Regions from separate parts of the Homo sapiens genome. Here region 1 is linked to region 2. Evidence: fine-mapped expression QTL. Tissue or cell type: whole blood. Region 2 holds a variant in brackets; the other region holds the start of a gene. All regions are shown on one strand. Distances are from middle to middle.

Region 1 (8,102 bases), 49 kb after region 2:
TGGATAAACTCCTACTCTGCCTCTCTCACTTCCTCCAGCCCTCCTCTCAGGTGAGCAGCGCTCCTTTCACGAACAACAGTTAGCGGTGAAGGCACTAGCCTGAGGCTAAGCATCAGTATCACACCTGGATGGAACCTCAGATCTGGCTGACTCCAGGACTAAGAGCTTGTGGAGGCACAAAACTACAGCCAAAGAGGAAGGCGCTTGCCTAAGGTGAGCAGGAAGTGGCCGCCAGGTGTCTAAGCTCTGCTTCTCGCTCCATTTAGGGTCATTCCTTCCAGAGATGATCAGGGCCAATGCCTGACCCCCAGGTCTGCCACCCCCATGCCCCTGTGTGTTACATCTGGACCGCTGAACCTACAGGGTGCCTCCCTGATCCCACACCACGCTGGGAACCATAAACTTGGCAGAGCCTCATGTGCCTTTGTGTCCCCAAAATATCTTGTATGGGAGGCCAGCAAAGCCTCTTGGAGGAGGGGGTTGGGGGGGAAGTGCCACACCCTCCAGGATTTGTATCGTTCCTTACCCTTCTTGAAATCCCTTTCCAGCCACTGCTACTTTTTTTTTTTTTTTTTTTTTTTTTTGAGACAGAGTCTTGTTCTGTTGCCCAGGCTGGAGTGCAGTGGCGCGATCTTGGCTCACTGCAACCTCCACCTCCCGGGTTCAAGCGATTCTCCTGCCTCAGCCTCCCAAGTAGCTAGGATTACAGGCACGTACCACCAACGCCTGGCTAATTTTTTTTTCATTTTAGTAGCGACGGGGTTTCACCATGTTGGTCAGGCTGGTCTCGAACTCCCGAGCTCATGATCCGCCCACCTTGGTCTCCCAAGGTGCTGGGATTACAGGCGTGAGCCACCACGCCCGGCCGCCACTGCTACATTTAAACAAATGCATACTCATGTGGGTAGGGCTGGCGTGACTCTTCTCATTTTATGATAAGGAAACCCAGAGAGGCCAAGCAACTGGACTGAGGTCACTCCAAGGAGGAGTGGCTGAGCTGAAATGAGAATCCATGTTCCCTGATGCTCCTGAGGGAAACTGAAGGAGGTGTGAACACAATTACAGAGGAGGAACTTCAGCATCCCGGGCCTTCAGGAGGCATTACCCACTGCAGGCCATTCTCCTCCTCTGAGCCTCAGTTTCCTCATCTGTAAAATGGGTGAGGACATTGGGCCTGGCACCTCCAAGCTGTCCCTTCCACTTATTTCTTAGGTTGCTTCAGGGCAGGCTGGGAAGCAGCAAGAGAACCAATTCCACTGATCCTCCCCCATGACAGCTTAAATCCCAAGGAGAAGAGGCGTCTTGAACCAAGGCCAGGAGAGGGCTGCAGGCGTTCCCAGCCAGGATTCTCTGGGAGGTGCCAAATGAACTTGAATCTTCAACTCCAGACCTTCAGAGAGCAAGCAGGCAAGAAAAATATGGGGCCTGGAAAAAGCTGCGCTGGAAAGGGCAGAGACCCTGCTGTCCTGGCTCTGTCACTAACTAGCTATGCGGCCTTGGCCCCTGCCTCTGTGCACCTCAGTCTCCCCTCTGTCAGGTGAGGTCACCGTTCAGGCCCTCCAGCTCTAAGAGTGTGCAGAACAGTTTTCCCAGCATTCTCTCTGTAGGAGGTACAGACAGGAAGAGATGTTTTTCAACAAGTCAGGCAAAATGTTGCACACGAGTTAGATTCTGTAGAGAAGGAGCTCTGACTGAGGAAAGAGCCACCAAGGAGGTGCCCAGAGACAAGAGAGGGCCCTGCTCCTGGAAATGGCCAGGCAGGGACTGGAGGGCACTCAGCAGGAGTGATGGCAGCGAGACGGCAGTCCTGCCTCTAGAAAAGGGAAGACCTCCGAGGTTCTGTCTGGCTAGGAGGTTCTAGAACTCAGCATTTCCTCTCCTGAGGCTCTCCCCAACCCTCAAGCAGTATCCAATCCACCTGGCCTTCCCTTCCACAGGAGGGGAACTTCTGAGTCGCCTTCCTGGGGCAACTAGCAGAGGGGACTCCCTCCTGGCCCTGGGAAGTAGGGGTAGGGCAGCATTGGGTGCGTCCTGGTTTATAGCCCTGGTTTGAAACAAGGCAGCATTGGATTCGAATCCTGCCTTCCACCACTTTATGTCCTGGCATCTCAGTCCCCCCACCCCCCGCTGCCAAAACAGGGGCATTGAGCTTTGTTCGCTGAGATAATGCGGTGCCAAGTGTCTGGCATGAAATGGCAGCTGCTGTTACAACTCTGCCGACGGGCTGCAGCTGCCTGGAAAGGTTATGGAACCTTTGCAAACAGCAGGCAGGGGCCCCAGGAGAGCTAGATTTGGGGAGAGGGGGATCCTGCGGGGAGGGACACTGTTGATGTCTATAAGGGTTTCTGCGGGACGAGAGAGGCCTGGAGAAGCTGGATGTGTCCGTGGGAGGTTTCTGTACAGCAATGCAAACGCTGGCTCAGGGGCATGACACCCTTAGGTATATCCTAGTACATGTGGGGCAGCTGGTGCCTGGGAGTGGAGGTGGTGGACATGTCACCAGTGACTTCTGCTCACACAGATGCTAGGTGGCTTCTTAGCACATGGCTATGAGGACACATTCTTGGGTCCTTGTGCATCCAAGCTGAAAAAGCCTTTAGGTTTGTCTCCACTTTCTGGTTTTATCGATGGAAAGACTGAGGCCTACATGGGAGGATTGAAGGCATGGGACGGACCCTGGAGAGGGTCCCAGTCATCCTTACTCCCTATCCTTCCATGGGGCAATACTCCCCAGGGACCACCCAGCACTGGGACACCTACCTACTGCATCCGGCTCCGGCTCGGTGCCCAGGAACCGCCCTTGAGACCTTGAATCCACCAGCTGGAACCTCTTAGATTCAAGGTTCTCCAGCACCTGCTCGTAGGTCTTGAGCAGGGAGCGGTCCAGTGTGGCTTTGAAGACGGCCGGTTCTGGGCGTGAGGGCTCGGATGTCACCGGGTGGCCCTCCTTCAGCCAGTTCCGGAAGCCACCATTGAGCACTGATACGGTGCGGTGGCCAAACACACGGAACATCCACCAGACCCGGGGAGCATAGAAGCTGCCCAGGTGTTCACCATCATACACCACCACGTGCGTGTGGTTGCTGATGCCCAGGCGGCCCACATACTCGGCGAAGCCAGCCTCGCTGGGCAGCATCATCTCGTAGGGCGACGCCGTGTCCCGGCACTCTTCTATGTCAAAGAAAGAGGCGCCGGGTACGTGGCGCTCGAGGTACTCCTTGCGGGCCTCTCGGGTGCCTGGTGAGTACCAGGACGCGTCCAGCACCCGCAGGCCGGGCCCCAGCTTGCCAGTCCTGATGGACTCCGCCAGCCACTTGGTGGAGACCAGCGCCCGGTAGAGCACCTGATGAACCATGGCTTCAGCTCTGCGTGTCACCTGGCACGGGTGGGAACCAGGAAAGAGAGACAGGCGTGAGGAAGGAAGTCGGTGTGTGCAGTAGGGTGAGGCCTGGGAGAAGCTCTTTCTCCCTCCGCACTCCCCCGGGTTCCTTGTTTACAGCAAGCCAGCGAGGCTGGGGCGTGCAGCGGGATAAGTTTGCAGATTCCCTCTGGAAAGCCGGCCCCGCCCCTCCCAGCCGGCCCGGGGGCCCAGCGCAGAAGCGGGTGGGGCAAGAGTTTCCGAGGACTCCAAGTAGGGGCGCTTCCTGGGGCGGGGATCTGGCTCCTAGAAGTTACAGTACTCGATCCCGCCAGGAAAGAGCAATGAAAGCATGCCCGGGATGGGGGGCGATGGCATCTTGGGCTTAGAATCCCCTTTCCTTCCAAGGCAGAGGGGGTGGGCGCACGGCTAGGAAGCTCCGCGAGCCGCGCACACGCCATCGCCTGCGGCCTCCCCAGGCAGCCCGAGCTCGCCCGCCTCCAGAGTGCCCGAGTCCGGCCCGTAGCTCGCTGCCCTCTGCCCTAGGTGGATCAGGGGTTCCCGGGGCACCCCGTCCCACTCTCGCAACGCTATCCTTCCCCGGGCAGCAGGTGGCCCGACCGGCGGCCCAGGCGCCCGGCCGCTGCCCCCGCCCCGCACTCACTCGCCCCGGACGCCGCGCTGGCGCTCGCCCCGGCCGGCTGGAGAAGTTGGCCGGTTCAAACCCCCGGCCGCAGCTCCCCAGGCGGCGCGCACCATCGCGCCACCGCCAGAGGGGGACCCTGCGCCGCCCGCCGCCATCCCGCGCCTCCCCCGCGCGGCCGCTTCGCGCCCGGCACCTGCCAACCTCGCGCGCGGGGCCTCCGGGACCCGCGGGGGTCTGAGGGGGACGCCGGGTGGCGCGGGGGCCGCGCGGGCCTGGGCTGGGCGGAGCGGGCGTACCCCCACGGCCCGGCCAGTGGAAGGCGCGGGCAGCAGCGGCTCCGAGTGGCCGCGGCGGTGGGCTGTGCCGGAGTCTCCTCCCTTTGGTCCGCTGCAGGTTGGTGGCGGGAGGAGGGGACAGCTGCGGGCGCGGGGAGGGGGCGCCGCGCCGCGGGGGCCATGGCGGAGCCAGGAAGCCGGGAGTCCGAGACCCGGGTAACTGCCGCGGCGTGGCGGCTTGCCTTTCTGGAGGGGGAGGGAGTGGCTCTTTGGGGGTGCTCGGCGCGGGGCTCCCGCGCGGGACCTGGGCGGAAGAGGGGGCTTAGTCTAGGAGAGAAGGCGCGCCGCTACGTTGGCACTAAGGGTGACTGTCCGCTTGGGGCGGCCTGCCGGGTGGGGTCGTGGCGAGTGGCGGGTGGGGAGCCTTGGGTGGAAGTGGGTGACCTGGTGGCACCAGAGAGGGCGGGGGAGAGAGAGGAGGACAGGGAGACGAGACCCCGCTGACCCAGAGGCCCCAGGAAGAGACACTAGCCAATAACTTGTTAGTGAGTGAAAGGAACTAACATTGTCCAGCCCTGCTTGGTGTGGCACTTTGCTGGGTACTCCCGTGGTGTGACTTAATTCCCACAATAACCCTGAGGAGTAGGCCAGAAACTTACTAAGACAGGAGAGAGCGGCAGAGCGAGTTGCTGGAGGACACACCCAGAGTTGAGGCCGGGCCTGATCCCTGGTCTGAAGCCCACGTGGTACCAGCTGCCTTTGTTTACCTGGCTCTTCCCTGAAGGTTCATGCTTTTTAAAAAATTGCCTGTTTTGAACTTAGCCCGTTTAATCATAAGTTGATGTAATTCAATTTTTAATAATAGCTGTATTTAACAACCAGTTGGCAAAATTCCTGAAAAGCTCGCCATGGGCTCTTGCAAACTGGGGGACACCATTGCCCCTCCCTAGCTTTTGCAGAGGCCAGCCTGGAAGCTTTCCCTGTTTCCCAACCCTGACCTTTTGTTTTGTTTTGTTTTTTGAGACAGGCTGTGGTTCTGTGGCCCAGACTGGAGTGCAGTGGCGCCATCTCAGCTCACTGCAACCTCCGCCTCCCAGGCTCAAGCGATCCTCCCACCTTAGCCTCCCAAGTAGGTGGGACCACAGGCATGTGCCACCATTCCCGGCTAATTTTTAAATTTTTGGTAGAGATGGGGTTTCACCATGTTGTCCAGGCTGGTCTTGAACTCCTGGGCTCAAGTGATCTGCCCATCTCAGCCTCCCAAAGTGCTGAGATTACAGGCATGAGCCACCATCCCTGGCCTCATCCCTCTTTTTAAAAAAAGGTTTTGTTCTAAAATGCTCACAGCAATCCTCAAAGCCTAGTGTCTGGTGGTTGGGGGAGGGGGTGGGCAGGAGGGACCAGGCTGGGGAGGTCCAAGAGGAGCTCCCAAGCTCTGCTCCTCAAGGGGTACCCTGGATCCAGCCTGCGGCTCACGCTTGCTTCAGTGCAGCTGTGTATCCTTCTGACATGAGCCTGGGGCGGTTACGTCCTGGGGTCCTCCACTCCCAGGGCACCCTCACCTACAGTGATCCCGGCTTCTGAATCACACAGGCACCTGGTTTCTACCCCTCCCTGACACCCACAGCCTGCCTTCACACCCTCCTTTATGGCCCACAGACCTTTGTGAGAAGTGCCAATCAAGCAGGGAGACTGGGGCAGGGTGACCTCAGATCTCTGAAGTCCCACCAAGCCCTGAAATTCTAAGATTTTAGATTTGCTGCTGGCAGTTCCAGGGCCACCAATGAGAGTAATGGAAGAAATAATGCAATATTATTATTATTATTATTATTTTGAGATGGAGTCTCACTCTGTTGCCCAGGCTGGAGTGCAGTGGCGCGATCTCGGCTCACTGTAACCTCTGCCTCCCAGGTTCAAGCGATTCTCCTGCCTCAGCCTCCCGGGTAGCTGGGACTACAGGCTCATGCCACCATGCCCAGCTAATTTTTGTATTTTTAGTAGAGATGAGGTTTCACCATGTTAGTCAGGCTGGTCTTGAACTCTTGACCTCGTTATCCGCCCGCCTTGGCCTCCCGAAGTGCTGGGATTGCAGGTGTGAGCCACCACGCCCGACCTAAACCGTTTTTAATGATTATTAAAACCAGCCAGATGTAATGCATGGTGGTTGCCCCTCTACATTTATTGTTTAATCTTGGCTCTAAGAGGTGGAGGTGAGAAGCTCCATTATAAGGAACAGAAACCACCCAGAGACCCTACACACCCACATCACACAACCAGTTAAGCAGTGGAGTGGGGTTTACATTGATTTGGGGGGCTCTCTGGCTCCTAAACCAGGGCTCTTTCTACTGTAAATGGATGATTGGGTGAGGGAAACAAGGATCCTCAAGAATAGGGGACAGTGTTTGGGGGTGCACAGGGGCTGCTGTGGTTCCCACAATAGGGTTCCTCAGGAAGGAACCTGCAGCATCTGCCAGCACAGCGCCCCCTAGCTGTGCTGTAACGCAGATAATGGGGATCACCCCTTAGCCAAACACCCCTTGGCAGCCTCCCTACCCTAAAGACCGTGCTGAGGCTTCCTGGGCCCCTGGAAAAGTCAGATTAGTCTGGACTTCCTCCTACTCCAGGAAGCCTTCCCACCTCTTCTGCTGCCACCCCAGGCAAACATAGGGGCCCTCTGTGCTCAACACTGAATTCTAAACTATCCTCAATTTCACTCTCTCTTGCCTGCAGCCTGACGTTTCCCCCCAGGGCTTGGCAAAGGCAAGAGTGCCTCGGTGTCCGGCACAAGGCCTGACCGCATGGGTGAAGTAGGTTCCTAAAAGCCAGCTGCGGCCAGACTGTGGGGGTGGGCACAGGGTGTCACCCTAGAACTCATTAGGCCCTGGTCATCATGGCACCTGGGGCAGGGGAAGTCCAGCCTGAGGGGTCAAATTCTGGCTGCAAATCCTGAGGCTGCCTCCTGTGACCACGGGCAAGGCACTTATTCTTCTAATTGCCAGTGGCCTCATTCATAAAGCAGGCGTCCTAATACCCGCCCAAGGCTGCGGTGCCTAGCATGTGACCTGGCCCACAGAGGCACTCGGTCCACAGATGTTGTTCTCTACCTGCCCCCTTCATTTCGCTGGCAGGACTGCATGCAGTGGGTGTCAAGGTTGGGCCTCACACAGGGGATAAGTGAGGGCTGATCTGCAGCCCATACTCCACACACCCAGCCATGTGCCCTGGTGGGGGCTCAGCCTCTGCCTGGCAGAAGGGGCCCTTTCCTCTCACCTGCACAACGGTGGCTTCCCAGCACAAAGGGCTTAAAGTGTTTGGGAAGTTTACACCCAGGAAGGCTGTGGGCTGGCCTGGCATAGTGGGCTGGCGAGCTGGTGCACTGTCTCTGGTATGCAGGAAAGATAGAGAGGAGAGGGAGGGAGGTGCGAAGTCACTGTTGCTGCTGCTAGAAGGGCCAGAGAGAGCCCAGGCTGGACAGGCAAAACCTGGCCTCGCCAGACTCCTGGAGCCTGCACAGAGTGTGTGTCTGAGAAGTCCGGATTCTGGTGCCAGACTGACTGCCTAGTGAGAAGCCTGGCACCGCCGGGTCAGGCTAGTGCACTTTTTCTTGTTTGTTTTTTGTTTTTGAGACAGAGTTTTGCTCTTGTTCCCCAGGCTGGATTGCAATGGCACGATCTCGGCTCACTGCAACCTCCGCCTCCTGGGTTCAAGCAGTTCTCCTGCCTCAGCCTCCCGAGTAGCTGGGATTACAGGTGCCCTCCACTAAGCCCGGCTAATTTTTTGTATTTTTGGTAGAGACGGGGTTTCACCATGTTGGCCAGACTGG
Region 2 (8,102 bases):
ATACTTCCTTGAACCTCTGTCCTCATCCCTGGGCCCACCCTTGCTTCTGAGAGCTGGGCCACCCTGTGTGGCCTCTGACAACTGAGTTCCTGCCTTCTTCCCCATGCTGGAGTTTGTTCTACAAAGCTCAGATTGGAGACCTTGTTGTTCTTGATTACAACTTACTTCTCTGTTTCCCTACCTCTACAGATGTGGTTTCTAGACAGTTTTCAATTATATTGATGAGTAAAAAATTTTTAAAAACAGAAAGAAAAATACAACTTTATTTTTAAATAAAAAAGAAAATATCATTTACTATCAACATCATTTTCTACTTTAAAAAAAAGACATTTTATTTTATTTTATTTTATTTTATTTTACTTTATTTTATTTTTTGTTTTTTGAGACAGAGTCTCACTCTGTTGCCCAGGCTGGAGTGCAGTGGCATGATCTCAGCTCACCACAACCTCCCCCTCCCAGGTTCAAGCAATTCTCGTGCCTCAGCATCCCGAGTAGCTGGGATTACAGGTGTGTGCCACCACGCGCAGCTAATTTTTGTATTTTTAGTAGAGATAGGGTTTCACCATGTTGGCCAGGCTGGTAAAAAGGGACATTTTAATACAAACGAAGTAATCAAAGAATTCTGATCTCAGCGCGCAGGATGGCCCTTTTCAAACAGAGGCAGCTGGCCATTTTCCTTGCCTTCATTTTCCAGGGTTTTCTCCTCCCATGAATGGGCAGTGAAAGCTTCATCCTGGACCAATCCTGCTCCACGATGGCTTTGGGGACCTGCCTTGCCCCAGTGTTTTGTCTGCAGGCCTGGCAACTTTGACCATGAGAGGCAGACTCCCTCTGACTGGAGGCTGACAAGTGGAAACTATTGGGATTATTCCCAGTGGCCTTACATGGGGGCGGCTCAGCTTGGTGAATTCTCAGGCATGATCCAAATCTGCCTCCCAGGCCCAGAACATCATTCTCTGGGATCCCGGGGCTGCCTGGGCTCTAGGAAGCCATTCTCTGCTGCTCCTGGTGTGCCCCTAGGGCTGGCTGAGGTTGGGAAGGCCTCCCCTCGCTGGAACAGAGGACAAAGTGATTCATCTTGATCCCCGTGAAATGGTTGTGCAACCCCAAGAGCCTGAGATTCATCAAAGAACGTGTCTCTTTATTTCCTGTTCATTACATTGCCAGGCACAATCCAGACAAGACATCCCAGCACTGCTTCCAGACCTCTGCTTGAAGGTGGGATTCTTCAATCTCCTGGACATTCTTAGAGTCTGGCTTTACACCACGTCTCCTTTGCACGATGGCAACACCAGCAGTATCTGCCCATGTGCAAGAGAGCCTCTGCAACAGCCCAATGGAGAAATGGAGGAGTTTCCAGGCCCACGTGACACTGAATCACAATTGTCTTTTACCGCTTGGGATGATGATGCCATCACTTTTCTCTAATTTTTTTTTTTTTTTTTGAGGCAGCCTCACTGTCACCCAGGCTGGAGTGTAGTGGCGTGATCTTGGCTTACTGAAACCTCCACCTCCCGGGTTCAAGTGATTCTCCTGCCTCAGCCTCCTGAGTAGCTGGGATTATGCCTACTATATCTCCAGCCTACAGGTGTGCGCCACCACGCCCAGCTAATTTTTATATTTTCAGTAGAGACAGGGTTTCACCAAGTTGGCCAGGCTGGTCTTGAACTCCTGGCCTCAAGTGATCCGCCTGCCTTGGCCTCCCAAAGTGCTTGGATTACAGGCGTGAGCCACTGTGCTCGGCCACTTTCCTCTGATTTTTAAGTGAAGTATATACATACATACATACACAGCAGGCAAGTGGAATTCCAAGCACAGAGGGCTTTTCAGCATAATTCTGAGAAGGCAACTTTGAGCAAATAACTTGCAGACATTATACAATTCTTTCTTGTTAAAGTCAAGGCAAGCTTTTCTGGGAAGGGGCATGAAGACCTTGACATAGTCTGCTTAGTTTTATTTATTTATTTATTTATTTATTTATTTAGAGACGGAATCTCGTTCTGTCACCCAGGCTGGAGTGCAGTAGCGCGATCTCAGCTCACTGCAACCTCCGCCTCCCCGGTTCCAGGTTCAAGGAATTCTCCAGCCTCAGCCTCCCGAGTAGCTGGGATTACAGGCCATAGTCTGCTTTAAAAATAATAATAATAATAATAAAAGACAACAGTGAAGAAGAAAGAAAGAATGATTCCCTCTTCGCACAAGAAGAAAGTTCTGATGCTTTTGGTATCATGGGGTCTTAGGTTCAATGTGTAGTGAGAGCTAACTAAGACAATTTTTATTTGTTCCTCTGAACACTTCTGTATTCCTATGACTACGTCATGCTTTTCCAGTTGCTATAACTTATGGAGTGTTTTGATATTTGGCATCCTCACTCATTAGTCTTCCTTTTCAACATTTTATTGGACACGATTACGCTATTATTCCTCCAAATTATTGTTAGAATCAATTTATCAAGTCATAAAAATGTCCTCTTAGAATTTTTATTGGAATTGCGCTAAATTTAATTCTTAATTTGGGAAGATCTGACAGTTTTGACAACTTTGTAATACTGGCTCTTTTGATCCAATAATTATGGATTTCCACTTATTTTGGGAATTTTACTTCAGCAAATTTTAAAAGCTTTTTCCTAGGTTCTTATTAGATTCATCTCCAGGATTTTAAGATTTCAGTGCCAGCCTACCTTCTCTCTCTCTCTCTTCCACCTTCCTCCCACCTCTCTCTCTTTCTTTCTTTTCTTTTCCTTCCTTCCTTCTTCCCCTCCTCCTACTCCTCTTCTTCCTTCCTTCCTTTCTTTCTTTTTTTTTCTTTCTTTCTTTCTCTTTCCTTCTTTTTCCTTCCTTCCTTTTTCTTGCTTGCTTGCTTGCTTTCTTCATTTTCCTCTTTTGTGGCCAATATCTTCCCAACCTATCTTATTGCAAATGATTATTATTAGTGCAAAGAAAAGCTACGGATGTTTGTGTAATGAGTTTATACCCAGCTCCTTCTCGAAGTCTTGTTCGTTGAATAATTCTTATTTAAATCTTACATGCTTTCTAGACATACAAGCCTATCTTCTTCAAATTATGAGCTTTGTCTCTTATTTTTAATAGTTATTTTACATATTATTCCTATTCAATCACAATTGCCAGAAAGTTCAAAACTATGTTGACAAATTCCTGGTGTTGCACACACCTGTCTTCAGAGAGATTGCATAGAGAATGCCAAATGCTTCACCATTCGAGAGACTTAGCATCGCTTCCTGAAAAGTCATCTTGATCCTACTAAAAAAATATTCTACTCATGACAGCAGGCATTCACCTCTCAAGGGTCTATGTCCAGGGAAATGTTTCTGCCTCCATCTCCAAGTGGCCATGTGAGGCGTTTTAATAAAATGAGCCTCCGACTAAGACCACACCAGAAGGCTCCTGTGGTTGGGCACCAGTGGCAGGTGACAGAGAGCTCCAACCAAAATGCCCTTAAAGTTCTCCTCAGCTTGGTTTGACTTCAGATGGCTTCTCATTGAGTCTAGGCCCTGACCTCCCTTATTTTAGAGCATCTTCTTTAGAAAATTTGTCATTGAAAATGATTTCTCTGTCCCTTTGAGATGTTGGTAAATCTTTTCAAAAGCCTCTTGCTGGCCAGGCACAGTGGCTCACACCTGTAATTCCAGTACTTCGGGAGGCCGAGGCGGGTGGATCACCTGAGGTCAGGAGTTTGAGATCAGCCTGGCCAACATGGTGAAACCCCGTCTCTACTAAAAACACAAAAATTAGCCGGGCATAGTGGTACATGTCTGTAATCCCAGCTACTCAGGAGGCTGAAGCAGGAGAATTGCTTGAACCCAGGAGGTGAGGCAGAGATTAGCCGTGAGCCAAGATTGCACCACTGCACTCCAGCCTGGGCAA[C/T]AGAGCAAGACTCCGCCTCAAATTAAAAAAAAAAAAAAAAAAGAAGAAGTTCAAGGCTACAGTAAGCTGTGATCACACCACTGCTCTCCAGCCTGAGTAACACAGCAAATCCCTGTCACTAAAAAATAAAAAGGGAAAAAGAAAAATAAATAAAAAGAATTGTTTTACACTTAGATTTCAAGATTTAAAAAGCTGTCAAATACCATATATTCAAAAATTCTGGTATCGTAAAAAGAGAACAGTAGAGATCTCTTAATGCTGCAATTATCCACTGAGGTTTCACAGTTTATGAATATCATGCTTTTTTGTAGAAATCTGCTAAGCTTACTGTTGAATCATTTATGTACACTGACTAATTTTTGAGCCATCATCAATTTTCATGAATTATGTAATTTAGCCTCAGCAATGTATCACATGCATTTGAAATAATTAAACTTTTCAAAGAGACTTAATACATGCAACAATGAGTAAATTAACGCTTTTATTAACATCAGCAGAGTTCTTTTTTTTTTTTTTTTTTCTGGGAGACAGGAGTTTAAGTTCAGGTAAAGCGACACTCTTGGCTTTGAGGCTTTTCTCTAGCTTTAAACTCTAGCCTGCAACTGTTTCTGATTAGCAGCTAGGTGACCTTCGTTGTACAAAGAGGCATCATCCTCTTGATCTTGGGTTTTCTTTCTAAAGGGCCTTGTGTGTTTTCATCCCACATTTTAAGATATAATAGCTGCATTGAACGAATTGGGGGATATTCCTTCCATCTTTATCTTTCCATTGGTATTATTTAAATAACATGAGGATTATCTGTTACTTAAAAAGTAATCTGCCTTGTAAGAACTTAACATCTTAAATGAGCTTAAAAACAAAAGAGCTTGCCTGTTAAACTGTCTAGGCCTGATGCATTTATAAGTGATTATTAAATACACTTCTCCACTTTTTCTATAATTATTCTATTCTTTAGTATTTTACCATTTAAAAGGAGACTTCTTGCTTTCTGAAAACACTCTTTCTTTTTCTACATGTCTGCTGGCATTCACCTCTCAAGGTTCTGTGTCCCAGGCAAATGCCACTCCAAGATGCCAGGCCTGTCTCTGCCTTCAGTCAACTTCCACGTGGGTTTCCAAAGCTTAGTATTAAATTGGGTATCAGGTTAAAATAAACATCAGAAACATTCTCATCTTTTTTCTTTCTCACTAGCATTTCTACTTCCTTTTGTTTTGTTTGTTTGTTTGTTTGTTTGTTTAAGAAATAGGGTATTGCTCTGTCACCCAGGCTGGAGTACAAAAGCATGATCATGGCTCACTGCAGCCTTGACCTCCCGGGCTCGAGCAATCCTCCCATCTCAGCCTCCTGGGTAGTTGATACTACAGGTACACGTCACCAAGCCTGACTATTTATTTGTTTTTTGGGGGGTTTTCTTTGTTGTAGAGACAGAGTCTCACTATGTTGCCTAGGTTGGTCTTGAACTCCTGGGTTCAAGCGATCTGCCTACCTTGGCCTCCCAAAGTGCTGGATTACAGGCGTGAGCCAACGTGCTCAGCCTCTATTTCCCGTTGAACTGGTTTTGGTAAGATATTTTACAGGCTAACTGTGTATTTCATCTAGCAGCCAGCAAGCGTTTGCACATCGTTATAAATTATGTCTTGTTATAAACTTGTTCTAACAACAATTCACTCTGAGCAGGCATTCCGCATGCTCATTACATAATATTTTTGTCTCTGTGCAGCTGCACATCTGCACCGTAGTGTAGCTCCCTGTCCCCGGGTGACCGATTGGAACTAGGTTTCTCCATCCCCAATAGGCCTCACTGTGTCTCATCACACCAAAGTATTTTTAAAAAGGCTTAATGAAGACAGCATCCTCTGTATCATCCCCCGGGAAGGCTGAGCAGGTTGCGCACCATAAATACACTTCAACGTTCCTATCTGCCTAAGCCTTGAATCCCCTCCTCTATGATATAGCAAGGTAAATGCCTGCATCCTGACTGCATTTAATGGACCACGGGCCCTGGGTTGGGGTTGCAGCACCCAGTGAGCTATGAGAGCAGCCCCCAGCTGCTCCGTCTGACAGATTGAAGCCAGGCTCTCCAGCCAGCGCTTCCAGCTTCATCAGTTCTGTTTGTTCAACGTTATGTTCCTTCTGCCCTGGTCTCGCAGCCTGAAATTCATTCCTTCACGTATTCCTCAGGATTCTGACATTATAAATTGGCAAAGGTCTTGCAATTGTTTGAATGCCTCCTCCCAGATCAGCTTTGGTCGTCATTACCCGAGGGTCTGCCAGGATGTTATGGTTCTGAAAATAATAAAAGGTGGGAGTAAAATCAACAGTCCCTTCAGGGCAGCAGCCTCAGGTGAGTTAATTAAAGTCTTGAGGCAAAAGAAGATTGATCTCCAGTAGGGAAAAGAGCTGCTATTGATGACTAGGGAGATGAAGTCTGGGGTTCAAGGTATTCAGATTTATCAAAATCTGCCCAAATTTCCACTTCTAATTCTTAGAGTCTCTCTCCTTCCCAATTAATCCCTTGTTACAGAAGAGATCTAGCAAGGTCATGAATTAAATTTGTATTTTATTTTACTTGGAGTTTGGTTTTTAGAAATCCTGGCCCTGCCTGTAATCCCAGCACTTTGGGAGATCACGGTGAGAGGATCACTTGAGCCTAGGAGCTCAAGACCAGCCTGGGCAACACAGGGAGACCCTCATCTCTACAAAAAATTTTTCAGATTAGCCAGGTTTGGTGGTGCGCACCTGGAGATCCCAGCCACTTGGGAAGCTGAGATGGAAGGATCGTTTGAGCCTGGGAGGTAAAGGCTGCAGTGAGCTGTGATCACGCCACTATACTCCAAAAAAAAAGAGAGAGAGACTGAGAGAGAGAGATAGAGAAAAGAAATCTTGGCCCTGTGACCATAAGAAATAAGGAGTTCTTTCAGAGTAATCTAATAATTCTCTGGTGGTCTATCTCTGCCTTCAGCTGGAAATTTACAGTCCTAAATTTGTCTCTTTATTTTTCCTCCACTTTTTCCAGTATGGTCAGAAAAATCCCGCCGGTTCTACAAGAAGAATCTAATATAAGAATCTTATATTGCAATAGCTACTTGATGTCCCAAGGCCTTGCTTGCCATAGGCAGTTGACCCCAGGCAATTACAGATGCTAATTTAGGTAACTGATTTGTCAAAGCATGTCATGAACGGCTAGTGTCTCACTTTCTACTGGCAATGAAGTCACTGTGGCCTTCAAATCTAAAAAGATGAAAAGAACAATTCCAGATTCCTATATTCAAATATTTGGTCTCCAAAAACCCCTTTTAAAACCAAAACAACTGTGGAAAGAGCATGCAGAGCAAAAGCCAGAGAAGCCGCCAGTGGGTGGGAGAAGCTGCCACTAATGGGCAAGGATGGCTTTCAAGAGCTCCCAAGGGAGGGGCTGGGCATCTCACTTGCCCCACACTTGGCTACTGGCACCTTCAGAAGACAGTGTCCTCTCCTTCTCTCCTGTCTTCTAGATCTTTCTCTAGAGCCTCTCACTGGGGAACAAAGCTAGAACCACACAAGGGGCTTCTGGGAAGTCTCTGCCATCCAGAGGAAACCTTCAAAGGGAATGGTGGTGACAGGGGATTGACACGGACAATCCTGTATATCGAGATGGTTTCTCTTATAGCTGTTCTGCTTTGAAGACTCCAACAGACCTACACCCTCTGAATGCTAACAGTAGTCTTAAAAGTGTCATGGAAGGCCGGGCACGGTGGCTCACGCCTGTAATCCCAGCACTTTGGGAGGCCGAGGCTGGTAGATCACCTGAGGTCAGGAGTTCGAGACCAGCCTGGCCAACATGTTGAACCCCCGTCTCTACTAAGACTACAAAAAATTAGCCGGGGGTGGTGGCAGGTGGCTGTAATCTCAGGTACTCAGGAGGCTGAGGCAGAAGAATCGCTTGAACCTGGGAGGTGGAGGTTGCAGCGAGCCGAGATCGTGCCACTGCACTCCAGCCTGGCAACAGAGCAAGACTCTGTCTCAAAAAAAAAAAGTGTCATGGAAGGACTTTGGCTCTTCCCCACAATGGCCACTTGGACCCTGGACTAGGGCAGACAGCAACGAAAACCGAAGAAGGAATGGAAAGAGGATAAAAAATAATATATTTTTATTTTTATTTTATTTATTTATGTATTTATTTTTGAGATGAAGTCTTGCTATGTCACCTAGGCTGGAGTGCAGTGGCGGGATCTCGGC

The links. PIP is the estimated chance that this variant, and not a neighbour inherited with it, causes the effect.
Region 1: it holds the start of TST, and the variant in region 2 is fine-mapped to the expression of TST in whole blood (TOPMed, PIP above 0.99).

The regions. Positions count from the first base shown.
Region 1 is chr22:37,015,378-37,023,479 of GRCh38, forward strand. It overlaps TST (thiosulfate sulfurtransferase), which reads right to left and starts at 4,070. Exons shown (of 3, transcript NM_003312.6): 1 at 4,023-4,070; 2 at 2,761-3,376. The coding sequence starts at 3,355. It overlaps MPST (mercaptopyruvate sulfurtransferase), which reads left to right and starts at 4,365. Exons shown (of 3, transcript NM_021126.8): 1 at 4,365-4,495. The coding sequence starts at 4,460. RefSeq lists enhancers at 2,613-3,588, 3,617-4,118 and silencers at 3,592-3,651, 3,812-4,201, 4,232-4,351, 4,362-4,681.
Region 2 is chr22:36,966,001-36,974,102 of GRCh38, forward strand. LL22NC01-81G9.3 (a long non-coding RNA gene) reads left to right here. Exons shown (of 4, transcript NR_038954.1): 2 at 390-507; 3 at 1,168-1,588; 4 at 1,986-2,172. Among named protein-coding and RNA genes, the nearest start is that of LL22NC01-81G9.3, 4.8 kb to the left of the region's middle. The variant C/T (reference allele first, on the strand shown) is at 3,885.